7 linked regions of the Homo sapiens genome follow. The protein of the gene in region 1 purifies or fractionates together with the protein of each later gene. This does not show direct contact. Each region holds a gene or a part of one and is shown in the gene's direction. Other genes may lie near its edges. The genes, in order: PMEL, GTPBP2, MAN1A2, ANTXR1, TPCN1, CMTM6 and CLCN7.

Region 1 (3,900 bases):
TGGAACTACAGGTGCCCACTACCACGCCCGGCTAATTTTTGTATTTTTAGTAGAGACAGGGTTTCACTTGGCCAGGCTGGTCTCGAACTCCTGACCTTGTGATCCACCTGCCTCGGCCTCTCAAAGTGCTGGGATTACAGATGTGAGCCACCATGCCTGGCTAAAAGTAAATTTTATGGTATGTGAATTATGTCTTGATTTAAAACAAAACAGGCGAGGCGCAGTGGCTCACGCCTATAATCCCAGCACTTTGGGAGGCCGAAGCGGTTGGATCACTTGAGGTCAGGAGTTTGAGACAAACCTGGCCAACATGGAGAAACCATGAAACATGGCGAAACTAAAAATACAAAAATTAGTTGGGTGTGGTGGTGGGTGCCTGTAGTCCCAGCTACTTGGGAGGCTGAGGAACGAGAATTGCTTGAATCCAGGAAGCGGAGGCTATAGTGAGCCAAGATCACGCCACTGCATTCCAGCCTAGGGGGCAGAGCGAGACTCCATCTCAAAAAAAAAAAAAAAAAAAAAAAAAGAGTAATAATAAATAAATAAACAAATAAATAAGGGGTTTTTTGTGTTTTTTTTTTTTTTTTTTTTTTTGAGATGGAGTCTTACTCTATCGCCAGCTGGAGTACACTGGTGCAATCTCAGAATCTCAGCTCACTGCAACCTCTGCCTCCCGGGTTCAAGCAATTCTCCTGCCTCAGCCTCCCAAGTAGCTGGAACTACAGGTGCGCACCACCATGCCCGGCTAATTTTGTATTTTTAGTAGAGACAGGGTTTCCCCATGTTGGCCAGGATGGTCTCTATCTCTTGACCTCATGATCCACCCGCCTCAGCCTCCCAAAGTACTGGGATTACAGGTGTGAGCCACCACACCCGGCCAAATAAATGAGTTTTAAAAATGCACTTCAGCCGGGCGCAGTGGCTCACGCCTGTAATCCCAGCACTTTGGGAGGCCAAAGCAGGCAGATCACCTAAGGTCGGGAGTTCGAGACCAGACCAACCAACATGGAGAAACCCCATCTCTACTAAAAATACAAAATTAGCCTGGCATGGTGGCACATGCCTGTAATCCCAGCTACTCAGGAGGCTGAGGCAGGAGAATCGCTTGAACCCAGGAGACAGAGGTTGCAATGAGCCGAGATCATGCCATTGCACTCCAGCCTGGGCAACAAGAGCGAAACTCCATCTCAAAAAAAAAAAAAAAAAAATGCACTTCGAATGTGAGAATGAATGGAGTGACATGAATAGAGTGTTATCCCTGAGAAGGAACTGAAAGGATCCTAGGGCCCTTCATGGCACATTCCTTTTAGTACCCAGAAACCAGGACTGGCTTGGTGTCTCAAGGCAACTCAGAACCAAAGCCTGGAACAGGCAGCTGTATCCAGAGTGGACAGAAGCCCAGAGACTTGACTGCTGGAGAGGTAGGAACTTGGAAGTTCCAGGGGAGGGCATGGTGGGAGTGGGATGAGGAAAAAAGCAAGCTGAACTGCATCGAGTGTAGCTTGGGAAGAAAAGGAGGGGAAACGTATACAGGGAGGGGAAGCCCAGGAGTCCCAGCTAATGTAGCTTTCCTTCCCAGGTGGTCAAGTGTCCCTCAAGGTCAGTAATGATGGGCCTACACTGATTGGTGCAAATGCCTCCTTCTCTATTGCCTTGAACTTCCCTGGAAGCCAAAAGGTATTGCCAGATGGGCAGGTTATCTGGGTCAACAATACCATCATCAATGGTGAGTACTTCTCTATTCTAGGTCCTTATTCCTAGGGCTCAGGTTCCCTGGTATGCCCAGTGAGCTCAGGGAATGCCCCTTCCTTCTCTACTTTTTTTTTTTTTTCTTTTTTGAGACGGAGTCTCGCTCTGTCGCCCAGGCTGGAGTGCAGTGGCGCAATCTCGGCTCACTGCAAGCTCTGCCTCCCGGGTTCACGCCATTCTCCTGCCTCAGCCTCCCGAGTAGCTGGGACTACAGGCGCCTGCCACCATGACCGGCTAATTTTTTTTGTATTTTTAGTAGAGACAGGGTTTCACCGTGTTAGCCAGTATAGTCTCCATCTCCTGACCTTGTGATCCGCCCGCCTCGGCCTCCCAAAGTTCTGGGATTACAGGCGTGAGCCATCGCACCCGGCCTCCTCCTTTAATTTTTAAAACAAGTTATATGTGTAATACATACTCATTGTAGTTAAAATTTAAAAACACAGAGAAGGCCGGGCGCGGTGGCTCACGCCTGTAATCGCAGCACTTCGGGAGGCCGAGGCGGGCGGATCACGAGGTCAGGAGATCCAGACCATCCTGGCTAACACGGTGAAACCCTGTCTCTACTAAAAAAAAAATACAAAAAATTAGCCGGGCGTGGTGGCAGGCGCATGTAGTCCCAGCTACTTGGGAGGCTGAGACAGGAGAATGGCGTGAACCCAGGAGGTGGAGCTTGCAGTGAACCGAGATCATGCCACTGCACTCCAGCCTGGGCGACAGAGCGAGACTCCATTTCAAAAAAAAAAAAAAAAAAAAAAACAGAAAGCAAAAAGAAAAGAAAATTACAGTTGTAGTCCCTGCTACTTAGCAGTCTCAGGTGGGAGGATCATGAGCCTGGGAGGTCGAGACTGCATGATCACGCCACTGTACTTCAGCCTGGGTGACAGAGTGAGACCCTGTCTCAAAAAGAAAAAAGAAAATTACAGTCCCTAAAGTGGAGGACAGCAGAATTCAGGGGACCTAGAAGTTGAACAGACCTATATTTAAACTTGTCCTTGATATGTGACCTTGGGCAAGTTACTTGTTTTGTGTTTCCATTTCTTTTTTTTTCTTTTCTTTTCTTTTCTTTTCTTTTTTTTTTTTTTTGAGACAGAGTCTGGCTGTGTCGCTCAGGCTGGAGTGCAGTGGCAGGATCTCAGCTCACTGCAACCTCTGCCTCCTGGGTTCAAGTGATCCTTCCGCCTCAGCCTCCTGAGTAGCTGGGAGTAGCCTCCCGAGTAGCTGATACAGGCGCATGTCACCATGCCCGGCTAATTCTTTTGTATTTTTAGTAGAGACGGGGTTTCACCATGTTATCCAGGATGACTCAAACTCCTGAGATCAAGTGATCTGCCCACCTCACTGTGTTTCCATTTCCGAAGATAAAAGGATTGTTGTAAGGATTAGAATGTGATAATATGTGTAAAGTACTTAATGTAGTGTCTGCTCTAGCCTACAGTAAAGGCTAAATAAATGCTATCTAGTGCTGTTATTTATTTATGTATTTATTTTTGAGACAGAGTCTCGCTGTGTCGCTCAGGCTGGAGTGCAGTGGTGCGATCTTGGCTCACTGCAGCCTCCACCTCCCAGGTTCCAGCGATTCTCCTGCCTCAGCCTCCTGGGTAGCTGGGATTATAGGCTTCCGCCAGCACGCCTGGCTAATTTTTGTATTTTTAGTAGAGACAGGGTTTTACCATGTTGGCCAGGCTGGTCTTGAACTCCTGACCTCAGGTGATTTAACCGCTTCAGACTCCCAAAGTGCTAGGATTACAGGTGTGAGCCACTGCGCCTGGCCCCCTAGTGCTGTTATTTTTATTCCACTAGCTAGAGCAAATCACTCTAAATATTTTGATATGTGGCTATATATATATACATATATCTTCTTTTTCTTTTATTTTTCTTATTTTATTTATTTATTTATTTATTTATTTTAAAGTCGGGGTCCTTCTCTCTCTCCCAGGCTGGAGTACAGTGGTGTGATCATAGCTAATTGCAGCCTCAACCTCCTGGGCTCAAGTGATCCTCCTTCCTCAGCCCCTGGAGTAGCTGGAACTACAGGTGCATACCACCACACCTGGCTAATTTTTTTTAAATGTATTTTGTAGAGACAGGGTCTTGCTATGTTGATCAGGCTGGTCTTGAATTCCATGCCTCAAGCAGTCCTCCCACCTCAGC
Region 2 (4,530 bases), on another chromosome or scaffold:
CGGGTCACTGCAACCTCCGCCTCCCGGGTTCAAGCGATTCTCCTGCCTCAGCCTCGCGAGCAGCCGGGATTACAGGCATGCGCCACCACGCCCAGCTAATTTTTGTATTTTTAGTAGAGACGGGGTTTCGCTGTGTTGGCCAGGCTGGTCTCGAACACCTGACTTCAGGTGATCCGCACACTCCTTGGCCTCCCAAAGTGCTGTGATTTACAGGCGTGAGGCACCGCACCCGGCTGAGTTGTTTAATTTCTTGACCGTGTATGAGCACCTCGCAGTTCGAGAAGAGGGGAGAAGTGGACACACTGTGAGTGGTCTGAGTCATGAGACAGCCATGCGGCTGTGAATTGAGCCCTAGCGTCCTGACTCGCAGCTCAGCAACATAACTGCTTTTCCACCCTGCCTTTCTGTGTTCTGTGCACTGGCTTATGTCGCTGAATGTATGTACTCTGTAGAGTGCAACAGCACTAAAGAGCTGGAGATTGCTTCACAAGAGAGTCAAAAGCCAAAAATCCCCTGTGGCCCTAGGCCAAGTTTCTATTCCCGGCCACTGCCCCGCCCTCGTGGTGGTTGGTGTAACCCGAGCCCTAGCCCCGCCCGAAGTAGGGGCCAGGCCCCTCCTACAGTCTTGGCCGTTTAAAACCAAACTCAGTTCTTCCCGATTGGTTCTGCTTCAAAACAAAGGGGAGGAGGAATACTCGCTTTGGGTATGCTTGCAGCCTTCGGGGAGGAAGCTGGTTTACGGGTTCGGGTCTCGTGTCGGGGCCACCGCGGTGCCTCCGGTTATTAAAACCAGCCCCTGGACGGTGCCAGCCTGGTAATAAAGCAGTGACTACTATGTAAAGGTAGCATAATCATCCCAACAATAACAGCCGTAATTTGGCTAATCACCATCCGCCTCCGCCCTGGCGTTCGCCCTGACTCACCCCAGCGGCACGCGGGCCATAGGGGAAGAAACTGAGGCAGAGGCGGAGCCAGCAGGCTGGCGGCACCAGTAGCCTCAGTTCTGCAGCTCTCGAGGTCCAAAACCTGTTGTCTAGGATCCGCGCTAAAGGGCCAAATCCCGGAGCGCCCACAAAGCTCGATTCTGATGTAAGCTCTTCTACGCTGGTGTCCTCGCGTCCCCACCCCAGGCCTCGAGGCTCTAAATTCCCCCCAAGTCCTAGAAAAAGAACATAGCGCGAGGACTGGAAGTCAGACTACAGCTCCCTTAAGCCTTTGCGCGCCAAGGCGCGCTCCTTCCCCACGCCTCCGACGACTCCCGCGGCCACTTGCGCCGCGATGCCTCCTGGGAGTTGTAGGGCGGCGACGTGTCATTTAAGTGAATTCCCAGGCCTGGGGACTCTATATCCCGTGGTGCCCCGCGGCTGTTTCTGACGCGACCCGGAGGCCAGGGAGGTGGGGGGCGTAGCTTGTGCAGAGCCCCACCCCACTCTGCTCAGGCCGGCCGGACACGGCAGTGGCAGTAAGGGCGGCGGCGACGGCGGCGGCGGTCGGGGGAGGGGCCGGGCGGGGGGCTGGCGGCAGCGGCGGATGGACTCGCGGGTATCGGAGCTGTTCGGCGGCTGCTGCCGGCCCGGAGGGGGCCCGGCCGTGGGCGGAACCCTCAAGGCTAGGGGGGCCGGCAGCAGCAGCGGCTGCGGGGGGCCAAAGGGAAAGAAGAAGAACGGAAGGAACAGAGGGGGCAAAGCCAACAACCCCCCGTATTTGCCCCCCGAGGTGAGCACCTGAGAAGTGGTAGGGCGGGAAGAAGCCACTCTTTCCGGCCCAGGACTCTAGGGAGGCGGGACCCAGATAATTAATCTCCCCTTCCGGTGTCGAGACCCCAGGGAGGAGGGGCACGGGAGGAGAACACCTCTTTCAGGTCCCGGGACCCCAGGGAGGAAGGGCAGAGACTGGACTCTCAGGTGACAGGACCTCAGGGAGGAAGAGTGGAGAGGGAGGACTCCCCCTTCTGATCTAGATTACCCCAGGAGAGAAGTAGAGAAAGGGGATCCCAGGAAGAGCACCCCGACCAACTGCGTGTGCCGCCATAGGGCAAGAGAGACTGCATCCTGGGACGAGAGGCAGACAGTAACCACCACTTCTTCTAAACTTGTTCCACAGGGAGAAGGGGAGTACCCGGGAAAAGAGCAATATGTTCCACACGGACACACACACAGTACTCGGGAAAAGAGCAGTATGTTCACTACACACACACACACACACACACACACACACACACAGCCTAAGCCAGTGGTTATCAAACTTTGGCATGTATCGAATCACCCGGATTGCTGGCCCCCAACGCCTGGCCAATTTTATTTTTTTATTATTTATTTATTTATTTTTTTTGAGACGGAGTCTCTGTTACCCAGGCTGGAGTGCTGTAGGGCTATCTCAGCTCACTGCAACCTCGGCCTCCCGGGTTCTCAAGCGATTCTTCTGCTGCAGCCTCCCGAGTAGCTGGCATTACAGGTGCCCGCCACCACGCCCAGATAATTTTTGTATTTTTAGTAGAGATGGGGTTTCACCATGTTGGCCAGGCTGGTCTCAAACTCCTGACCTCAGGTGATCCACCCGCCTCGGCCTCCCAAAGTGCTGGGATTGCAGGCGTGAGCCTCCGTGCCCAGCCTAGAATTTCTGATTCTTTCTTACTAGTGAGGATGGGCCTGAGAATTTGCATTTCTTATAAGTTCCCGTGTGATACTAATGCTGCTGGTCCCAGGACCTCACTTTGGGAACCATTGGTCTGGGCCCTAGACTGTCATTCTTGTACCACATTTTTTGAAGCCACCCATCCCCAGAAAAATGATTAAAAGGTTTTTATTGATGGGGAAAAAAAATAATCTCCTTAACACACCATGAAGTGGAGATTATGAGTGAAGACCTGTTAGGGCCTGGGAGCCAGACAGCCTTGAAGGGATGGAATGATAGGAAGGGAAGAGGAAAACTAAAATATCCAGAGAGGCGGGTAGAAAAATGCAGACTGGCCAAACAGGCAAATCCCATATCCCTTTGTACCTGGGAGGGGAAGCCTCAGGTAACAGGGTGCTTCTGTGCTGTGCTACCCACTGGAGCTAGAAGAGACTGTGGGGTGGATTCAGGATTTCACCTCCACTGAGGTTAGGGGGCAAGAGGTAAAGGCCATAGCGAGTCTGTCCGCTTCATTACATTTTCTGAGTTTTTCTGTTCCTCTCAGCCCCAGCTTTGGAGCTCTTCTCCTCTCTCACCTAGATCTTCTCGGTCATCAGGCTTGTAGTGACCATTGCTGAGCTCACCCTTTGGCTCTGATCCAGAACCTCTTGCAGCCTCTTACTCTAGATGACATCAGCTGAAAGGGGCAGGCAGGGAGGAAATGGTGTTTCCTAGACCAGTGACAAAGAAAGGTTTTAACAGCCTGGGCACAGAGGAGACATAGACTTCTGGGAAAAGCAGGTTTGAGGCCCTGGAGGTGGGGAGGAAGGGATGATCTTGCATCTAGGAAGAACGTGCTGCCAGTGATCAAAGAATGGATTGATTCAGTGTTCTGTTCCTGGCTTAAATGGGTGACTCCTTGTGTCCTTATAGGCCTTCCCTTCATAGAGGCTATGCTGGGGGTGAATAGAGGATCTTGTCTGCCACTGACCTTTGACAGGCACTTGCCTAACCAAGTGCCAGTGGGGCTTCCTGCTTTCTCAAGTTAGCTACCTGGACCCAGTGGGAATTGAGGGGAAGTAGGGATTGGGTCTGTACAGTGTATGGTAACTGCTCACTGTTTCTTTTCAGGCTGAAGATGGAAACATTGAATATAAAGTGAGTCCTAGGCTGGGGAAAAGCAGGGGCTGGGGTAGGTTGTCCTTGCCAGTGTGGGATAATTTCTTTTTTCTTTCTTTCTTTTTTTTTTTTGAGATGAAGTTTTGCTCTTGTTGCCTAGGCTGGAGTGCAGTGGCGCAATCTCAGATTCTCCTGCCTCAGCCTCCCAAGTAGCTGGGATTACAGGCATGCGCCACCATGCCTGGCTAATTTTGTATTTTTAGTAGAGATGAGGTTTCTCCATGTTGGTCAGGCTGGTCTCGAACTGCTGACCTCTGGTGATCCACCAGCATGGGATAAGTTCTCTGAGAGCCTTCCAACTTCATAATTATAGCAGTTTAAGGATATGGTTCAGGTTAAGGGCTCTGTACCTCGTTCTGTTGGAGGGGGATCAGGTATGAGTTTAAGTGGAAAGAGAAAGTCCTGGTCCTTGCAGCAGAACAGGTGGGGACCATGTAGGTTTGGGAGGAACACCTCTGATTTCACCTTATGATACCCCACTTGCCCTAAGTTGAAGCTGGTGAATCCATCCCAGTACCGCTTTGAGCACCTGGTGACACAAATGAAGTGGCGGCTCCAGGAGGGACGTGGTGAGGCCGTCTACCAGATTGGGGTAGAGGACAATGGGCTGCTGGTGGGGCTGGCTGAGGAGGAAATGCGAGCTTCGCTCAAGACCCTGCACCGGATGGCAGAGAAGTATGCTTCCCCTTCCCCACCAGTTCTCCTTTACCTGACTTGGGGGGACCCATGCATACCCAG
Region 3 (4,158 bases), on another chromosome or scaffold:
ATACTACGGAGAACAGAATTGATTCAGATTGTTTTTAAGCCTGAACGTAAACAATATTGTCGCCTTTTTGGGTTTCAGCACCTCCTTATTCATCCATTTTCTCTTTTATGGGAAGGGGGTTGATGAGGTGTGTGAAGATGATAGAACGTGCCCCAGAAACTGAACAATGAAGAGACGCCTGTCATATCGGGGGTACCTAGATTCCTCTGAAAGGAAGCCCAGCTGAAGGAGCAGGGTCACCACTTTATTTTAAAAACGTAACATGGCACATGTTGGTGCTCTATTAATCGAGCCTCGGGGGCCCAATAACGTGAGCATGGGCTGCTGCGTGGAAGTTTGAGACCCTGTTGCTGAATCCTCGGGCCTGACGGTCTATCGCTGAAGACAAGACTTCCAAAGAATCACAGTAAACGTTAACCTAAGCCATCAGAAGCCATTAACTCCGGTGACACTACATTTCAGCGAAACCTTCGCGACCCAACCCCTCGCTCCCTCTCGCCCAAACGCTGGGTCAACCCCACGAACTGGCGGTGGCAAGGCCCTGGGCACCGGTGAAGTTCTCGTGGCAGCGCAGATCGGCGACCTTCTCTTCTTTCGCGCTCAGACGGCGGCGGCAGCAGTACGCTTTCGGGCTGCTGGAGCCGGCAGCGGCGCGAGGCCGGAGCCCGGGCAGCCAGGCTGGGTGGGGGAGGGGCGGCGGCAGCGGAGCCGGGAGCGTGCGCGCGCACCTCACACTCCGCCGCCCGGGGACGCCCACTCGCGAGCCGGGGCCGGTAGGCCGGCCCGGGTCCCATCGCCCCCGCCCTCCGGTTCCTCTCCGGCGTGAGCCCAACGGGTGTCGGCCCAGCAGCTGCTGCGCTCACCAGGCCTGGGGAGGCAGGGTACGGGGACCGGGCCGCAGCCCCGAGCGGCGTGGGCGCGCTGCCTCTCTGGCAGCCGCCGCCAGAGCCAGCAGCTGCGAGCCACCGGAGGCGGCGCGGAGGAGGCCCCCGCGGCCGGGCAGGAAGGAGACGCGGCCGACCTCTGCCCGCCCGAGGCGCGGCTGCTCCCGCGCGCCCAGGCCCTCCCGCCGCTCCAGGGCTGAGTGAGGAATGAGCCGGCGCCTACCCCGGGCTCTCGGAGCGTGGGCCCCGGCTCGGCTTCTTAGGCGCGAGGGCTCGGCCACTGCGGCCGGCGGCCTAGCTCGGGGAGCAGGCGCCGGGGTTCACTGAACCGGCCGCGGAGAGGAGGAGGAGGAGGAGGAAGAGGAGGAGGAGGAGGAGGAGGAGCTCGGCGGGGGCGGCCGCCGCGCCTCCCCTCCCCCAGGACACGCCGGGGCTTCTCAGTGGCCGCCGGAGGAGGAAGTTCCGCTCCCTGACAGACCCGTGCGGTAGCAACAGCGGCGGCGGCCGCGGCGGCTGGCCGGACTCAGGTGTTTCGGACGCTATTGCCCTTCGCGCCAGCCGTCGAGTGGGCAGCAGCGGGACTCAGCCGGGCGCCAGGTTCCTGCCAGGCAGCGCCGGGAAGCGCGGGCGGCCGAGAACTCCTTCCTGCTACTTCGCCCAGCGCCGCTGCTTCGGCTTCCCAGCGAAGTGGGAGACCTTCCTCCCTGTTTGCAGACGTCCGTGGGAGACCCTTATTTTTTCCACCGCTAAGGTTAAGAGATTCTGGAATAGAAGCGTCGAAGGAGATCAAGTGAACCTTCTACAACTCCTCGGATGTCGCCAGTCTCCCTTTCGGGGCGGAAGACTACGTTTGAGCATCTCACTGAGGTGCAGGAATGGAAGAACCCACCTTGCAGCTTTTCTGCAGTGTGGCTTGCCTGATCTACCCCTAGGAATGAAGAGGAGGCTTGTAATAATCCGATGAAGTACAGATGTTGAAGAGGATATCGCAGGACCTAAACTTGTGATCGTTTGGGGGAGGTCACACACGTTTCTGAGTGGGAATGGATGGGCGTGAATGACGTGCCCTCTTAAAAAGCACAACAGTCCTTTAAGAGGAGCAAAATTGAGTTTTCCCATTTTGGCCAAGATTTTGAAGACAGTTCAATGTATTCTACATTTGACATAAGATGAGAACTTTCTAAAGTATTCTCTCCAAGAGCGTAAACGATGACTACCCCAGCCCTGCTGCCCCTCTCTGGACGTAGGATACCACCTCTGAACCTGGGGCCGCCTTCCTTCCCACATCACAGGGCTACCTTGAGACTTTCTGAGAAGTTTATTCTTCTCCTTATTCTTAGTGCCTTCATCACTCTGTGTTTTGGGGCATTCTTTTTCCTTCCAGACTCTTCAAAACACAAACGCTTTGATTTGGGTTTAGAAGATGTGTTAATTCCACATGTAGATGCCGGTAAAGGGGCTAAAAACCCCGGAGTCTTCCTGATCCATGGACCCGATGAACATAGACACAGGTTTGTTTATTTCAGAAGTTCTGGTACTAACATTTGGCAGAGCAAGGTACGGTGATTGGATCGAATCTGTCTTTTTTTTTTCTTGCAGTAAAATGTAATTTTTCGAGTCATAAATATTGTATTGTTACTTCAAGACTGGCTGAATAAAACCATAGACTGGAGGGACTCTACCTCCAGTCTATGGTAGAGTCCATAGACTGGTAGGACTGGAGTCCTACCTAAGTCGTTCTTCTCTTCGGTTTTATATAAGAAAAACATTTGCGTTCAGAGTTGTGTCTAATGTGGACATCTGGGAAGGGAGGTATGAAAACTTAACCTAAAGAAATGGTGACATAAGCTGTGCCTGCATTTATTAATAACGTGTTGGAGTCAGTCATTGTGCCACCATGTGAAATCAAAGCATCGAACCTTGACAGCTCTTTTGGGTGTGCTCTCCCAGAGGGCTCTCGTTTTCTGGCTTGTAGTTGAAGCTTAGTAGTGAGTCAGCTTTTTAGGATGACAAACGTGGGCAGAATATACCTGTCATTTCTTAACGTGAAAATATCCTGATTTTTGTTCTTTTTTTGGGGATGTGTGTTGGTGCTGTATATGAAATCAGTTAAGTTAAAAGGTATTGAATCCTAAGTTATTGCACTTTGTGAGGCTTGTAGACAAGATTTATTTTTGTGAAACTTAATTTTGCTCTCTCTTTTAATGTAATAGATGGACTGTGTCAAGCAACTATTGGAATTTGGTTGATTAAGGGGTTCACATTCTTTCAGATCACTAAATCTAAAGTGAGCTCTGGGGAGAGCATAGCCAAACTAGGATAAAATGGGAGCTCTAGTTACAATTTTTATAATTTTTATATTTGTACTCAAGAGTTTGGGAAAGTAGTTGACTTTTCTTAAACCTGCCATCTTTTCCTTGTTTCTTAAAATAATTCTTGAGTATGTGGGAAAAAAAATCATGTGCTTGAATTCATTTCCCATCTGATGATAGTTTTAACTTTTTGTCAAGCACCGAAAAAGCTTAGGTTCACGTGTAAGCCTACATTAAATATTTGGGAAAATGCACTGTTTTATGAGAACTGGTTTTTCTTTTTTTCTCAACCTAGTTAATTCATTACTTGTGTGATGGTTCTTTGACTTTTGGATGAATTTTATGGAGTAGTTACTTCTAATATTGTTTCATGCCATTCTTTTGTAACTAAGTTAATTTGGAATTTTTGCCATTTTCGACTACTGTACTCCTGTATTTGTTTCTTTAATTTTGCACTTTGCTTGTTGTGACTTTAAGAAAACACTAATATGATCTGTGAAATATGTTACTGAAAAATTAACGGTGAAAGTAGTTTTCCTTGAAAATCTTATTTCGCATGGTATTTGTATAACATATGAAATATATTGAAAAAATGTGTTAAGGCTGTTTTTAGAGCTGTTTCACAACAGCCACACATTAACATTACTTAGCTCTATTATTAATAGTATCTGTCATGTACTAAGCAGTTTAAAAAATACATTTTGAATGGTCTAAAAGTTTAAAATAATATGACCACATTTTAGTTTAAAAACATTTACACAAAAATTCTCAGTAAATGGAGTTAAAATATGAAATTTGAATGAAAATACAGATATGTGCCTTTTATTCACATTTTTAACAGTCTGTATAAATAGTTTAAACAAGAATTCTTAAATTTATGAAGCCCTTGGATATATATGCATATGTATTTAGCTATCTAAAACTATTGGGTTCCTGAGTTTGGAATGAGAGATTGGTTATTG
Region 4 (3,900 bases), on another chromosome or scaffold:
GAGAGGGCCACCCTTTGCACAACTCCAGGGGACGCTATTCACATCAAGTCTGTGGAGTTGTCCCATGCACAGTATACATGCAGGAGTGAGGCAGTCCCAGAATCTGGAAAATTCATCCTTTCTACCCTCTGGTTTGCTTAATAACTAACAGTTAAACGTGTTGAGTGAGTGGAAGGTGGAGTTGTGGAAACTCATGAGGCGAGAGCATTGCATTCTCTGGGGAACCCGGGAGTTCTTGGCAGAATAGGTTACGCTTAAACAACATTAAGGGATGGGTAGAAGCAATGGGAGAAGGGCTTTCCAGGCATGTGGAGCCCTGCATGTTGAAGCGTGGAGCTGCACAAAAGCCTGGCATGATTGGGAAAGATGGGAAAAGTTCAGGGTCTGAGGACAGCACAGGGCTAATCCAATTACAGGCTAACCAAGTGAGTTCACAGACTTCATCCTCTACAGCTGTTTCTTCCTCGAACAGCACTGTGCCTGCAGGCACACCCAGGTCTGCCTGAGGACACGCAGGTCAGAAGGGGCCTCTACCATCTGAGGAATGTGCTGCCATTTGTGTTACCCAAGCTCCAGCCAGCTGGACGTCTGGAGCCACCACATCCTTTCAGATTTAAACACAACTTCCCTTGATGGGAAACCGGCCTCCCTCCCCAATCCCTGCGGTTTCTCCCAGGCACCACTGACTCCTACTCCTCGCTTCTTCCGCGTTATCTCATCTTCTCGGTTTGCTAGACACGATCTAGCAGCTCTGGCACAAATCCAACTGCGCAGCAAATTTTACTGAAGGTTTAAAAGTATAGTGCAGCCCACAACCCCTGACGGAATATTAAAGGGACTCTTATTTACCACCGGCCACCCCCACCACTCGGGGGGATTGGGGGTCGTAGCTGTTCACTGGTAGCTCTGCCCCACTCTGTTCTGCTCATCTTCTCATTCCCCACAAGCCCCTGATTTCTCATTCACAGCAATTGGGCTCATCCAGCCCCATCCTCCAATAACCATAGAGGACAGCAAGGTTTTTGTTTTGTTTTGTTTACTAAAGGAAAGCCAGCTCACACTGAGGATTTCTATACTGGTGTTTTCTCCCTCCCTGCTACCATCCTTGAAGGGCAGTGTAGGAGGAAGATCTCAAGAGCCTTTATGATTTAATGAGATGTAAAAATCCACCCTCCAGTGCTGCCGAGTTTCTTAGTGGCCTTGCTGAGGGGCTGGGATTCTACTCCGTCCATTTTTGGCCAAATGGAAAGACACATCAAAGATTCCCTTCTCTTCCTGGGGATTGCAAAACCCTTCTGTCTCCAGAATGTGTAAACAGACCCATGCTAACTGCAGGGGAAACTCTGACTCTCCCGTCCGTCAGCCCCTGGGCCTTTGTGCTGCCTGGTGCTGTTGTCTGAGCTTGGCAGGCCAGCTCCGGTCAGGGGATTAAGCGACGGGCTCGGTGGCGCGGCAGCGTGTGGAGATTGCCCAAGCCCTAGGCATTTCCTGTTGCGAGAAGGCCAGGCCCTGCCCTTGAGCACGAGGGCGGCGCCTCCTTCCCCAGGCCAGGGACAAGAGGGAGGAGCCAGGGACTAGAGGGAGGGGCCAGCGGCAAGAGGGAGGGGCCAGGGGCAAGAGGGAGGGGCCAGGGACTAGAGGGAGAACTGCCCCCGTGTGCAAGTGGAACCTGGAAAGCGGGGAAACCGGCTTCATGCATCTTACTATATCCTGAGCACTCAGCGGGGTTGCGAATTAGAGAAAGCCAGTTGTAAATCCTTCTTTAAGTTCTTTTCGTAAAATATAGGGGGAGAAAAACCCCTGGACAAGGCATCAGAAAACCACACCAGAACTTCACCTTTAGGGGTCACTTCATTTCTCTAGATCTGACTCCTCTTCTGTGCAGTGAAAAGACTTAATTAGATGAGCTCCTAAAAAATTAAGAGGCTCATGAACCTAGTTGAGTCCCCTGTGGAATAAAGCGGCTTTATTCTTGGAGTTTCTTAACGTTCGTGGTGCTGCTGTGTTCAGCTTTAGGGGATAGAATTTCTGTTATCTCCTTTGGAAAACTGCCCCAGACTGGGAATGCCCAGGCTTTCAGAGCCATATTTTGTATATCTGTGTTCACAGCCACTTACACAGAAACATACATCCACCTCCAATGTAAAGTTTAACCACATATAGGACATATAAGATTCCTGCTTTCACATCATAAGGTGAAAGAAACCTCGGAAATTCTAAGGTAAAGTAATATGAACTATAATATTTTATTGTGTTGGGGACTTTATTTTGTTATATTTTGCAGTTATAAATTATCAAAATTAAGTCCATGTGCGGTGGCTCACACCTGTAATCCCAGCACATTGGGAGGCTGAGGTGAGAGGATCACTTGAGCCCAGGAGTTTGTGACCGGCCTGGGCAATATGGCAAAACCCCATCTTTACAAAAAATAGAAAAATTAGCTGGGTGCATTGATATGTGTCTGTAGTCCCAGCTACTCAGGCAGGCTGAGGTGAGAGAATTGCTTGAGCTGTGGTAGTTGAGGCTGCACTCCAGCCTGGGTGACAGAGTGAGACCCTGTCTCCAAAAAAAAAAAAAAATTATCAAAATTAGCAGGTACAAGGAGAAGTCAAAAATGAGCGTGTATTTGTTGCCATCAAATGATTGGAAAAGCAAACCACAAAAGAACAAAATCCAGACTGGCCAATGCTGAGAAACAATCAAAGGAGAATGAGGTTGCATGAGTTCAAATCCAGCTCTGTCACATACAAGCTGGGTGACCTAAGTCATTTAACGTCTCTATTCTCGTTCTCTAAAATAGGAATAATAACACCATGTACCTTCCTGGGTGGTTGCAAGATTAAAGGATTAATAATACATTTAAAGTGCTCAAAAGAGTGACTGGCACATAACATGGGAAAGGCTGCATAAATTCAATGGTGTGTTATCATGAATGCAATATGTGTTTATCGAGCACCTACTTTGCACTTAGAATACAAGGGTCAGCAGAATCTGAGAGCGAGCAACCAAGTAAGAGAGAGAGAGACACCCAAGTGTCAGCTGTCAGAATGTTGTACGTCCTAGTCTGCTGTGACCTCTCTGTCCTTTAAGATGTATTAAATTTTTTGAAAATCATTTTAAAGAAGACTGCCCATCCCAAGCACAACATGTAACTCAGGGAGTCTTAATGTGCCAACATGTTTCTGCTTTGCTTTGTCACCTTTTGTCCTGACCTCTCCTGCCTTTGCTTTTTTGCACCTTGCCTCCTGCATGGGGTGCCCCATCCCACGCAGTGGTGCCCTGCATAGGACTTCACCCAAATGCCACCAAAACAAGGCTGTGAGAAGCAGGCTTCAGCATTGTGAGCAATTTCTCCCTCTTTTGTTCATTCCTCTGCTTTATCAACCCCTTTTCCAGCTTCCTTTCTCTACCCAGGAGAGAAATCATGCCACTTCCTTATAATCCATCCATGACTATAAATGGTGATATTTTTCTCCCCACAACAAGAATAATTACAGTGCCAAGATGAAGAGCAGTTGCTACATCTCCTCCCTTTTTCCATCCACAGTTACAAGTTCCTCATCTTCTTTCTTCATCTTAAAAAATATAAACACTAACTTCTTGTCACTGAGCTAAGTTGCAGACACTTAATTAACTGCTTTATTTGAGTCATCTTATTTAACTTATTTGTAAATTCAACAGATAATTCTTGGGCACCCACCACATACAACATAGTGCTATTCTAAAGACTGGGAATACAATTGTAAGCATGACAAACAAAAGCCTCTGTGGAACGTACGTTCTAGTGTGGAGAGACAGATATTAAGTAAATATCAAGCCATGATGAGATCCTTAACTAAAAATAAAACAGATTGATGGAATGAAGAGACCGCGGCTACTTTAGAAGAAATTTCCAGGGGA
Region 5 (3,900 bases), about 57 Mb from region 1:
GGTGCTGTGGTGCTATTGGGAGACAGGGTTGGCCCACTGAGCACGGAGCCCAGGGATGAGAGTAGGGGAACCAGGGTTGGAGGCTGGGAAGGCAGACAAGGAGCTGTCCTCTGCAAGGCATGTGCTCTGAGAGGATGGAGACAGGCAGATACAGCACGCCGGGTCACCCTCTGCAAATACAGTTTCCCAGATGTGATGATGCCCTCCTACTCCCGGAACCCCTGGTCCTGCGTCTTCTTCATCGTGTACCTCTCCATCGAGCTGTATTTCATCATGAACCTGGTGAGTGACTATGCCTCAGGCTACGCTGAAGCAGCCTGCCCCTACCCATGCAGCACTAGGCACTGTGGGAGTGGAGAAGTGGGGACTGTCTTCTGCCTCTCAGGGCAGAACGTTGGGGCAGGAAGTCCCAGATTCATAGTCAGGTGCGGTGTTGCAGGGAATGCCCTGTCGGGACTTCAGGAGTTCAGCCAGTTGCTGGGGGTGGCGTCCTCACCAAGGCAATGCTGCTGATGCTGGTAGTGCTGGATGTGAAACCCAGGCAACCCTGGGACCTTTTCATTCTTACATCAGAAATAAGCAGTTGACCCTCGGTGTCCACAGGGATTGTTTGCAGGACCCCCTGTAGGTACAAAGATCCACAGATGTTCAAGTCCCTTATATAAAATGGCAGAGTATTTGCAGATAACCTGTGTACATTCATCCTCTCATATATTTTAAATTATCCTGCATTACCTATAACACCTAATACAATGTAAAAGCTATGTAAATAGTTGTTATACTGGGCTGGACATGGTGGCTCACGCCTGTAATCCCAGCATTTTGGGAGGCCAAGGTGGGTGGATCATTTGAAGTCAGGAGTTCGAGACCAGCCTGGCCAACATGGTGAAACCCTGTCTCTACTTATGAAAATTAGCTGGGCGTGGTGGTGGGTGCCTGTAATCCCATCTACTCAGGAGGCTGAGGCAGAAGAATTGCTTGAACCCAGGAGGTGGAGGTTGCTGTGAGCCGAGATCATGCCGTTGCACTCCAGCCTGGGCAACAGCACGAGACTCTGTATCAAAAAAAAAAAATTGTTATACTATATTGTTTAGGGATAATGACAAGAAAAAGAAGGCTGTACATGTTCAGTACAGATACAACCATCCTTTTCTTTTTGGAATATTTTTGATTTGCGGTTGGTTGAATGCATGGATGGAGAACCCACAGATAAAGAAGGCCAAGTATATTATAATAACCATAAAAGCTGGCATTTAGTAAGCCTTAGCCACTTGGCACTATGCAAAGTGCTTTACATATGAGGATGAAATAATTTAATAAATAAACACAACCGTGGAGGTAGTGAGTATGGTTCTCCATGTGCAGATGAAGAGACTGAGGGTCAGAGTGACAGTGTGATTTGCCCATGGCTACATAGCTTGGAGTGGCCAGGCCAGGCTCATCCCAGAGCCCTGTTCCTAACCACTCTGTTCAGTTGCACTCACGTGCCAGAAATGTCTTGTGTATTTCTACCTCACTTATCAGGAACCATCAGAAAATCCAGTATAGAACACGTTCTGTGAAGGAGAACGTAAAGCCTCTGTGCTCAAAGAACTTTGAGGGTGTTTGTGGAGGTGTGGACAGCCTCCAGGAGTGTCCCAGCCATCACAGATCACATCCGACACCAGGCTGTTAGGCCGGTGCCCAGACCACACATCCATGGCAGAGCTAACGGGGAGAGGCTTCCGATCGAGTCCTGTGTTTATTTTTATGCTTCTGCAGAGCATTCTCACACCAGTCACCACAGTCAGGCCCAGTATAGAAATGAAAATCATCTTTTCCAGGTAGACTTGTGAAATCTAAAAAATTTTAAGTCCTTTTCTCTTTTTTGAGATGGAGTCTCGCTCTGTCACCCAGGCTGGAGTGCAGTGGCGCAATCTCAGCTCACTGCAACCGCCGCCTCCCAGGTTCAAGCGATTCTCCTGCCTCAGCCTCCCAAGTAGCTGGGACTACAGGCACATGCACATGCCGCCACACCCGACTAATTTTTGTATTTTTGGTAGAGACAGGGTTTTGCCATGTTGGTCAGGCTGGTCTCGAACTCCTGACCTCAGGTGATCCGTCCGACTCAGCCTCCCAAAGTGCTGGGATTACAGGTGTGAGCCACAGTGCCTGGCCAAAATTTAAGTCTTAAAAAGGAGAAAATATTTCCTTTTTTTTTTTTTGAGACAGAGACTTGCTCTGTTGCCCAGGCTGTAGTGCAGTGGCGCGATCTCGGCTCACTACAACCTCCGCCTCCTGGATTCACACCATTCTCCTGCCTCAGCCTCCCGAGTAGCTGGGACTACAGGCACCCGCCACCACGCCCGGCTAATTTTTTTTGTAGTTTTAGTAGAGATGGGGTTTCGCGCTTTGTTAGCCAGGATGGTCTCAATCTCCTGACCTTGTGATCCACCCGCCTCGGCCTCCCAAAGTGCTGGGATTACAGGCCACCGTGCCCGGCCTGAGAAAATATTTTCTTGTTTTAATTCCTCAAAACCAAGAAGAAATATGTTGAGTACTTCTTTGTATTTGATTTAATTCATAATATATTTAGAGCTGTGAAAATTTAGGGCAGCAGTCAACAAAGTACGACCTGCTGGCCAAATTTGGCCCATGGCCTGTGTTTGTAAATAAAGTTTCATTGGGACAGAGTCATGCCCATTTGTTCATGTATAGTCTGTGGCTGATCTCATGATATGACCACAGGTTAGTAGTCGCAGCAGAGATCATTTGGCCTTCACAGCCTAAAACAGTTGCTGTCGAACCCTTTACAGAAAAAGCATGCTGACCTTTGATCCACAGGGAAAAAATGGGGGACCAGTTTGAGGGAAAGGACCAGAGAGTTTCCCTTAAAACATTTTTAAAGACAGAGAAAGTGTTTCTAAAAAGGATTCTTTCAAGTTCTTCCCCGGCCTTCCATCCCCCTCTGATAAGCTAACTTTTGGTATTAGCCAACTCTAGAACGTTATTTCCTTGCATGCAGAGCCTCTCACTCCCCTTTTTCCTGGGCCACACGTGAAGCAGTGACTCACAAGGAGAAGTAACAAAGGGGCAGGGGGAGGAAGGGTCCTTCTGGATCGGAGGTCAGGAGGGCAGTGGGCAGGCAGCCTCCGCCTGCCACTGGCTGGAGTCGGACTGGGCTCAGAATCCAGATGCGCCCCTCTTGCTACTCTCTCCTCCCCTGGCTTGCCCCTGCGCAGCCTGGGACAAGCTGTAGCTGGAACTGGGGAAAGGAGTGTGGGAAAGTGGAGGGGAACCTGGGAAAGATGGAGTAACAATGCCTTCATGTATCTGAAGAGGGAAATTTACAAGCGGAACAAAGGGCCTTCCTCTGTTGAGACTTGGGAGACTGACTTCCTACCCCATGAGGTGCAGGCGAGAGGGTCTCCCCAGGGCCTCTCTGGGGTGACTGGGTAAGAGCCTTGCCTAGATGATGAACTCATACCCCCCTGCACTCCCTGCCCTAACCACTCAAGGTCCTGAGCTAGGGCTCTGTGCTTCTCTCCCACAGCTTCTGGCTGTGGTGTTCGACACCTTCAATGACATTGAGAAACGCAAGTTCAAGTCTTTGCTACTGCACAAGCGAACCGCTATCCAGCATGCCTACCGCCTGCTCATCAGCCAGAGGGTAGGAACTATGGGCCAGGGAGGGGCTTGGTCCCTGTCCTCCCTCCCTTGCCCAGAGCAGCCCCTAAGCATGGCCAGGCCAGCCACTTTAGAAACCAGGAACCCTGCCCTTGGAAGAATGAACAGAGCTGGAGTGGATCTGGAGTGGGTGCCCCAAGGGAAGGGGAGTAGCCTGGGTTCCACACTGCTCTTCCCTCTCCCCCAGAGGCCTGCCGGCATCTCCTACAGGCAGTTTGAAGGCCTCATGCGCTT
Region 6 (3,900 bases), on another chromosome or scaffold:
AGAAGAGGAGGTGTTTTAACAAGGGACCTGCAAACCCTGTGAAATTTTATTCAAAATATTGTACACTTATATGTTTGAGTATATTATTCTGGACCCATAAATCTTAACAGAATCTCAAAGATCCTACAAGAGAAAAGCCTGCTCTAAAACTTAAAAACCAGACATTGTGTATATACTTAGGAAATTCTTACATTAGAGTCTTCGGAGGTTGAATTGAATTACCTCTGAGGTTCTTTGCACTCTTAAGGTTTTTTTTTTTTTTTCAAACCTCTGAGGCTCCATGGGGTTTGCTATTACAGAACTGAATTGAATATTGAAGGGATAGAGAGTGGAGCCTGTACACAGAGGAGATTAGAGATAAAAGAACGTAACTTCTCTATCTCTTGAAGTTAACATAGCTGTGTCTGCCATTTAGATATGACCTAAGTTTTGTTAAAACCCTAAGCATCCCCCAACTACCATCCACCCTTCCAGAGCTTAAGAAGAAATACTCAGTTGAGAATTTAGTGTAAGGAGTTACTGGAGTCCTAACTTTATGCAGTTTTTCAGTTTATACTATCCTTAGATTTGTCCACATGTTCATGTTTTATTTTGTGAATGTTTTTGAGGGAGTTTTTGTTTTAAGGGGAGAATTGACGTTTGGTAACCTAATTGCTTGCTGATACGCTGGTGCAGTGACCTAAATATGTGGAATTTTCTGTGCAACAAGCTCCACATTGTATCCATGCTGTCAGTTGACTATCCTGATAGCTGCACAGTACTGGAATTCTAGTCGCTCATCTGGCAAGCAGTTTTAGAAATCGCCAGTGATTTTTCAATATATTACATTATAAATAATGTTACCCTATAAGTACCAAGAAACAGATTACTTGGAAGCATTTCTTATATTGATGCTCTTTTCATTATTTAAATATGAAAACTGATGTATAGTAAATTGAAATGTTCTATTTTTACCTTGAGGAAGATCCCGTAATGTCAGCAAATTATATCTGAACCTTTGTAAGAGTAAATATTTGCCTAAGGCAAGGGAGGCCTGGCCTGTTTCTTCAGACCAATGGATTTTTAAATTTGAACTTTACTTATAACTACAAAGTTTTTAATAGTAAAGTTCATTAATTTATAATTCATATCATTTTGTAGATGGAGCTTTATAATTAATGGCAAACATTTAAAAGTTCTTTTTATAAAATATAAGTAGTAGACTGTTAAATTAATGGAGAATTCGTATTTAATATAGTGACCGTTTTAAGGAACACTTGAAATTTCAGAAAAGGTAGTGAAACTGAGGCCGGGTGCGGTGGCTCATGCCTGTAATCCCAGCACTTTGGGAGGCCGAGGTGAGCGGATCACAAGGTCAGGAGATAGAGACCATCCTGGCCAACATGGTGAAACCCCGTCTCTACTAAAAATACAAAAATTAGCTGGGTATTGTGGCGTGCACCTGTAATCCCAGCTACTCAGGAGGCTGAGGCAGGAGGTGGAGATTGCAGTGAGCCAAGATCGTGCCACTGCACTCCAGCCTGGCAACAGAGCGAGACTCCATCTCAGAAAAAAAAAAAAAAAAAAGAAGGGGTAGTGAAACTGAAATGGAGAGATAGAGGCAGGATAGTAATTATCCAGTGTTTAAATCACCAGAACTGTAAGATCATGTTTTAGTCACTGAGACTTCCCAAATCTGTTGATGTTAGCAAATTGTTTTTAATGTATGATTTAATACATTAAAGGAAATATACAGAACTGTGGGTTTAACTTCAAAAAGCCAGTCTTACAGGGAAGACCTACACAAACATACATACTCGTAAAAGGAATTTAACAAACAGTATTTCATGGGGAGAGAGGAAGTACAGAGTGGGAGTCAGAGACTTGGGTTCTTGTCTGTGCCGAGCTAACTTGGGGCTTAACCTGTCAGTAGCTTAATTCCATCTTTGTAAACGTGGGAGTGGGAGACTATATCCGCTAAGGGCCCTCCTGACATTAAAAGCTTGATAATTCTCTTAATTATATTTGGGTAAAATTTTATGTCATTAGAAGGAGTTACATTGGGTATACAGTTGTTAAGTACTTAGCTTAATATTCAGTAAGCAATATTTAGTATGATGACTTCATGCTATTAAGAACAAAACTGTTTACCAAAAAATAATAATTGAGCCTTTTTACTTATGGGTTATGTTTACCATGAATTTCTTAGCTAATTCAGTGACATTTTTTCTCTCTTCCTATTTTTGACCACTTTGGCATTTAATGCTGGTGACCACTCATTTCTCGAAATTGTTCCTTCAGCTTTTACACTTTTTTTTTTTTTTTTTGAGACGAAGCCTCGCTCTGTCACCCAAGCTGGAGTGCAGTGGTGCAGTCTCGGCTCATTGCAACCTCTGCCTCCCAGGTTCAAGCAATTCTCCTGCCTCAGCCTCCTGAGTAGCTGGGACTACAGGCGTGCACCACCATGCCCGGCTAATTTTTGTATTTTTGATAGAGACGGGGTTTCATTATGTTGGCCAGGCTGGTCTCAAATTCCTGACCTCGTGATCCACCCGCCTTGGCCTCCCAAAGTGCTGGGATTACAGGCGTGAGCCACCGCGCCCGGCCAACTTTTACACTTTTTTCTTTTTAATACAAGAAAGTGTCTGCTTACCAAAAAAAAAAAAATCAACTAAAAATATTAAAATAAAACCACTTTCCCACCCCTCACACTACCAGGTGTCACGGTATGAGTAACAGTTTGGAGTATGTTTACTTGCTGCTTTTTAAGGAGTTTTTTCTTTCTTTTTTTTTTTTTTTTTTGAGACAGAGTCTCGCTGTTGCCCAGGCTGGAGTGCAGTGGTGCGATCTCGGCTCACTGAAAGCTCTGCCTCCTGGGTTTACGCCATTCTCCTGCCTCAGCCTCCCGAGTAGCTGGGACTACAGGCGCCCGCCACCACGCCCGGCTAATTTTTTTTGTATTTTTAGTAGAGACGGGGTTTCACCATGTTAGCCAGGATGGTCTTGATCTCCTGACCTCGTGATCCGCCCACCTCGGCCTCCCAGAGTGCTGGGATTACAGGCGTGAGCCACCGCGCCCGGTGTAGGAGTTTTCTTTTTTTAAAAACACTTCCTGTGGCTTGCTGATAAGAAGTTAGTTGCTCTTTTCCCTCCTACACTCGGAACTGTAGAATTCCTTTAGGCCCCACCCAATCCTCTGTTCCTCCTGTTTTCTAACCTACTAAACCAGACAGGTGTTCCCTCCTGCCTTCATCTAAACATCCATATTCCCTTGCATGATCATCACACAACCACACCCAACTCCTAAACCATTTTTTTCTTCATCCCCATCCAGTTAGGTCAGTTGCCTTATTATCATTTTTGGATTTACTATGCAAATTCTTGCCCTTATGAATATGTTCTTTTTCATCCTCCACCTAGAATTAGAATGTCCTCTGTCTATCCAGGTTCTGTTTGTGTCTCTGCCTGGTTTGAGTCCTGCTTTTCCACTCATCCTTCTCCGGCTCCTTCGAACATTTTCTTGAGATTTTCTAACCTACATATAATGAATGCTCAGTTAATGTGGTATAAAATATATTGTTATTATTGTTTCTTGTACATTGAGCTTATTACTCCATCATTTGTATCTTCCTATACGTAGAACAGTGTTGGAGTGTTGCTAGTTCAAGTACACTTTGAGCTAGCAATTGCATAATGCTGTGGGAGCTTACAAAGGTTAGTAGCCTCAGAGATGGGTAGGCAGAGAATTTTTTTTCTTTTTTTTTTGGTAGAGATGGGGTTTCACCATGTTGCCCAGGCTGGTCTCAAACTCCTGAGTCCAAGCAATCCTCCCGCCTTGGCTTCCTAAAGTGCTGGGATTACAGATGTGAGCCATCGCATCTGGCCGACAGAATTTCATATTGACTATAGCTTGTAGTGCCA
Region 7 (3,900 bases), on another chromosome or scaffold:
CTGTGTCCTTGTCCTTGGTGTCGGGATGATAATGGCCTCGTGTGTGAGCTGAGAGGGGCCTCTCTCCTTGTGGCCTTGTCAACTGTGCTTCTCTCTTTGCCTTTTTCTGCCACAGGATATGGACCCTCCACATCCCTTCCCCAAGGAGATCCCACACAACGAGAAGCTCCTGTCCCTCAAGTATGAGGTGGGCGTCCTTCTGTCCCCCTGACCCTGAGACCCGGCCTCTGCCCCCTGCCAGCCCACTCCCGGTCCCCTGTGCCCGCACCCAGAGCGTGGGTTCGGTGCTGAGTGCTGCCCTTGCTGTCCCGGCCTGCAGAGCTTGGACTATGACAACAGTGAGAACCAGCTGTTCCTGGAGGAGGAGCGGCGGATCAATCACACGGTGAGCTGGACGCCGCTCCCTGCAGGGCCCCACGGTGCGGGGCCTGGTGCCGGCCGGGCCTGGGGCTGCTCTTCTGCCGGGGTGAGGTGACGCACCTCCTCCCTCCTCCTCTGACTCCGCCTCTGAGGCCTGTGGTTCGTCTGGTTTCTAGAGACAGTGGGAGGGTCACGGTCACCGTAACCAAGAAGGCTGCTCTTACGGCCGCCAGATGCGGTGCCCAGCATAACAACCGCTGGCTGTGAAGTTGTTGGGAATTCACCCACCTCCCCGAGTCACCCTCGGGCCCCGGGTGCGCCTCAGATGTTGGCCAGAAACTGTCCTTTGTGGGACTCAGCGCACCGTGCACACTGGGCCCTTCATAATCCCGGGGCCTGCAGGCGGTCTGGGCGGTCCTGCTGCTGCCAGAGTGACTGCGCCAGGGCCCTGCCTGACCCTCGCCCTGACCGCGCCCTGCAGGCCTTCCGGACGGTGGAGATCAAGCGCTGGGTCATCTGCGCCCTCATTGGGATCCTCACGGGCCTCGTGGCCTGCTTCATTGACATCGTGGTGGAAAACCTGGCTGGCCTCAAGTACAGGGTCATCAAGGGCAGTATCCTTCCCAGTGCGGCCGCTGCAGCTTGGGAGGGGGGCGTGGCCTGGGCCGAGTCCCGGGCAGAAGTCCTGAGCCCAGCGTGTTCCAGTGCAGGTGGAGGCGGCCCGGCCAGGCTGGCTGTGTCCCTGTCATGGTTGGGCCGTGAGACGTCTCTGGGATGTCCAGTGAACATCATGGCTCCACCCAGCAGGGTGGCATCTGCCAGGCTGGTCTGTGGGGCAGGGCTGAGGTCTGGGCTGGGTGGTCATGACGGGGAAGCAGCCAGCCCTCCTTGATGAGCCCCAGATATCGACAAGTTCACAGAGAAGGGCGGACTGTCCTTCTCCCTGTTGCTGTGGGCCACGCTGAACGCCGCCTTCGTGCTCGTGGGCTCTGTGATTGTGGCTTTCATAGAGGTGGGTGGCAGGATGCCGCAGCTATGGCGGACCCCATGAAGGATTGGGGGTCTTGGTGAATGGGCGGGAACCCCTGCAGCTCACCCACCCCCACCATCACATTGGCTGACAACCCGGGCACTTTTAGAATCACGTGGTCCAGACTCACAACCTCAGGAGGAGCAGACACACCAGGGCCTCTTCACCCCCAGAGCCCTGGGGTGCTGCTCCTGACCTACCAGCACAGGCCTGGGCACCCTCACCCCACTCCGCCCCTCCTTCCATCTCCTCACTCTGCCCTCCCCTCCTTCCATCTCCACCTCCGCCTCCACCACGTCCTTGATCTGTGTCTGGGCTGGGAAGAGTGAGAGCAGCTACCCCAACGACATGAGACCCTTCCCTGGGGCCCCAACGTGTGTGCTGCTCTTCCCTTCCCTGAGGCCCCGACGTGTGTGCTGAGCTCCCCTTCCCTGGGGCCCCGAAGTGTGTGCTGCTCTCCCCTTCCCTGAGGCCCCGACGTGTGTGCTGCTCTCCCCTTCCCTGAGGCCCCGACATGTGTGCTGAGCTCCCCTTCCCTGGGGCCCCGACGTGTGTGCTGAGCTCCCCTTCCCTGAGGCCCCGACGTGTGTGCCGCTCTCCCCTTCCCTGGGGCCCCGAAGTGTGTGCTGAGCTCCCCTTCCCTGGGGCCCCGAAGTGTGTGCTGAGCTCCCCTTCCCTGAGGCCCCGACATGTGTGCTGAGCTCCCCTTCCCTGAGGCCCCGACGTGTGTGCCGCTCTCCCCTTCCCTGGGGCCCCGAAGTGTGTGCTGAGCTCCCCTTCCCTGGGGCCCCGAAGTGTGTGCTGAGCTCCCCTTCCCTGAGGCCCCGACATGTGTGCTGCTCTCCCCTTCCCTGGGGCCCCGAAGTGTGTGCTGAGCTCCCCTTCCCTGAGGCCCCGACATGTGTGCTGCTCTCCCCTTCCCTGAGGCCCCGACGCGTGTGCTGCTCTCCCCTTCCCTGATGCCCCGACGTGTGTGCTGAGCTCCCCTTCCCTGGGGCCCCGACGTGTGCGCTGCTCTCCCCTTCCCTGGGGCCCTGACGTGTGTGCTGCTCTTCCCTTCCCTGGGGCCCCGACGTTTGTGTGCTGAGCTCCCCTTCCCTGAGGCCCCGACGTGTCTGCTGCTCTCCTCAGCTCCTGGGGCTCCTGGGGCTGAGGGGCTGCATCTGTCTCAGCCTGGCCGTGACCCACTCAGCCGTGCTTCCCCTCTTTCAGCCGGTGGCTGCTGGCAGCGGAATCCCCCAGATCAAGTGCTTCCTCAACGGGGTGAAGATCCCCCACGTGGTGCGGCTCAAGGTGAGGGTGCGGTGGCCCTGGCTGGGCAGGGTGGGCGCCCGCTCTTTGCTGGTTCAGGAGCAGCTCTCTTGGCTGCCTGCCTTCCAGAACTGGCCTCAGCCACCCTGTGTACTGGTGGCACTGTGTGCAGATGGGCTGGCTGGGTGTGAAGGGGTCACCTTTTTTTCTGAAAGTGGTAACAACTGGTATTTGCACATATTAAATTACGTAAGAAATGAGTAGTCATACAGAAATGCTTGCGTGGTGCATGTGTGACACAGCTGTGCGACGCGTCTGTGACTGTGGGCTGCGTGGTGGTGACTGATTCACCGTGGAAGCTGTCGTGGTAGTGGGCGTGTAGCAGTTTCCCGCTTTCAGTTTGCCTCATGGTCATTTACACTTGGTGTTATCAGAGCATCTGGTTCTGGAGGTGCTGGGAGTCCTGACCCAGTTCCGCTGTGGTTGCTTCTGTCTGTGCCGCCATCGTTCCTTAGCCTGAGACTTGCCGCAGCCCCGTCCCGTCTGAGGATGGGTGGGCAGCATGGCCGCTGCCCCCTGGGGGTGCTTCCGGGGCCTGGTCCCCGTGGCCAAGGAGCGGGACCAGTGTGTCCCCTCTGGCGAAAGCTCCCAGGTGACCTTGGGGTGCCCCTGCCCTGTGGTGGGAGATCAGGTTTACTGGAGCAGCTGGGAATGGCGACCCGCCTGTCACCCGCGCCAGGCTGGCCTGAACCTTCTTGGATGTTGCTCTATAACTTTTGTTGGCTGAGGGTTGAGTTTGCTCGGCATCTTTAACATACAGTCCTCCCCCACACACTCAGCGCCCTTGTGTTTAGGGTCTGCGCCCTTGTGGGTTCTGCCCTGGGGCAGGGAGGCTGATAAACACCTTACACACCTTCTCAGGTGGAGAGGATGAGGCCCCTGGGGGCGGGGAGCAGCCGAAGGGAGAGGGGGCATCGTGGAGCCGCAGGTGACCAGCCTTCCAGTGCCAGGGGTGTATGAGGAGCCTTGCTAGGCGGGGCTAGCGGGAACACCTCCCCTGTGCTGGCCACGCTGGCGGAGGCAGGTGTGCCTGTAGGATGCGGTGGGCGGCCCAGCTTTGCCTCAGGAAGGAAGGAAACGAAAGAACCCCTTGCCTGCTCAGTGCTGAGGCCACAGAGGGCAGGTCCCCCGAGTGAGTGCGGGGGACGCTTGGCTGCTGTTTAGCTCCACTGTGGCCATGGGGAGACCCAGCCTGGGGG

Evidence for each region.
Region 2: the proteins of PMEL (region 1) and GTPBP2 purify together in Homo sapiens (affinity purification with mass spectrometry; 2 studies listed by BioGRID and IntAct, with this or other methods). This does not show direct contact.
Region 3: the proteins of PMEL (region 1) and MAN1A2 purify together in Homo sapiens (affinity purification with mass spectrometry; 2 studies listed by BioGRID and IntAct, with this or other methods). This does not show direct contact.
Region 4: the proteins of PMEL (region 1) and ANTXR1 purify together in Homo sapiens (co-immunoprecipitation; 3 studies listed by BioGRID and IntAct, with this or other methods). This does not show direct contact.
Region 5: the proteins of PMEL (region 1) and TPCN1 purify together in Homo sapiens (affinity purification with mass spectrometry; 2 studies listed by BioGRID and IntAct, with this or other methods). This does not show direct contact.
Region 6: the proteins of PMEL (region 1) and CMTM6 purify together in Homo sapiens (affinity purification with mass spectrometry; 2 studies listed by BioGRID and IntAct, with this or other methods). This does not show direct contact.
Region 7: the proteins of PMEL (region 1) and CLCN7 purify together in Homo sapiens (affinity purification with mass spectrometry; 2 studies listed by BioGRID and IntAct, with this or other methods). This does not show direct contact.

The regions. Positions count from the first base shown.
Region 1 is NC_000012.12:55,959,143-55,963,042, reverse strand, and holds part of PMEL (melanocyte protein PMEL isoform 3 preproprotein), read left to right. Parts: intron 1-1,310; coding exon 1,311-1,421; intron 1,422-1,579; coding exon 1,580-1,726; intron 1,727-3,900. UniProt on the Homo sapiens protein: Forms physiological amyloids that play a central role in melanosome morphogenesis and pigmentation.
Region 2 is NC_000006.12:43,626,163-43,630,692, reverse strand, and holds the start of GTPBP2 (GTP-binding protein 2), read left to right. Parts: upstream 1-1,428; 5' UTR 1,429-1,530; coding exon 1,531-1,716; intron 1,717-1,776; exon of another isoform or gene 1,777-1,904; intron 1,905-2,103; exon of another isoform or gene 2,104-2,134; coding exon of another isoform or gene 2,135-2,176; intron 2,177-3,351; exon of another isoform or gene 3,352-3,414; intron 3,415-3,744; coding exon 3,745-3,771; intron 3,772-4,282; coding exon 4,283-4,467; intron 4,468-4,530. Other genes in the region: MAD2L1BP (MAD2L1-binding protein), read right to left, coding at 924-943.
Region 3 is NC_000001.11:117,366,091-117,370,248, forward strand, and holds the start of MAN1A2 (mannosyl-oligosaccharide 1,2-alpha-mannosidase IB), read left to right. Parts: upstream 1-1,358; 5' UTR 1,359-2,093; coding exon 2,094-2,395; intron 2,396-4,158. UniProt on the Homo sapiens protein: Involved in the maturation of Asn-linked oligosaccharides. Progressively trim alpha-1,2-linked mannose residues from Man(9)GlcNAc(2) to produce Man(5)GlcNAc(2).
Region 4 is NC_000002.12:69,176,961-69,180,860, forward strand, and holds part of ANTXR1 (anthrax toxin receptor 1 isoform 1 precursor), read left to right. Parts: intron 1-3,900. UniProt on the Homo sapiens protein: Plays a role in cell attachment and migration. Interacts with extracellular matrix proteins and with the actin cytoskeleton and thereby plays an important role in normal extracellular matrix (ECM) homeostasis.
Region 5 is NC_000012.12:113,273,387-113,277,286, forward strand, and holds part of TPCN1 (two pore channel protein 1), read left to right. Parts: intron 1-182; coding exon 183-282; intron 283-3,532; coding exon 3,533-3,649; intron 3,650-3,853; coding exon 3,854-3,900. UniProt on the Homo sapiens protein: Intracellular channel initially characterized as a non-selective Ca(2+)-permeable channel activated by NAADP (nicotinic acid adenine dinucleotide phosphate), it is also a voltage-gated highly-selective Na(+) channel activated directly by PI(3,5)P2 (phosphatidylinositol 3,5-bisphosphate) that senses pH changes and confers electrical excitability to organelles.
Region 6 is NC_000003.12:32,496,264-32,500,163, reverse strand, and holds part of CMTM6 (CKLF-like MARVEL transmembrane domain-containing protein 6), read left to right. Parts: intron 1-3,900. UniProt on the Homo sapiens protein: Master regulator of recycling and plasma membrane expression of PD-L1/CD274, an immune inhibitory ligand critical for immune tolerance to self and antitumor immunity.
Region 7 is NC_000016.10:1,457,890-1,461,789, reverse strand, and holds part of CLCN7 (H(+)/Cl(-) exchange transporter 7), read left to right. Parts: intron 1-115; coding exon 116-187; intron 188-319; coding exon 320-385; intron 386-841; coding exon 842-974; intron 975-1,262; coding exon 1,263-1,372; intron 1,373-2,602; coding exon 2,603-2,683; intron 2,684-3,900. UniProt on the Homo sapiens protein: Slowly voltage-gated channel mediating the exchange of chloride ions against protons. Functions as antiporter and contributes to the acidification of the lysosome lumen and may be involved in maintaining lysosomal pH.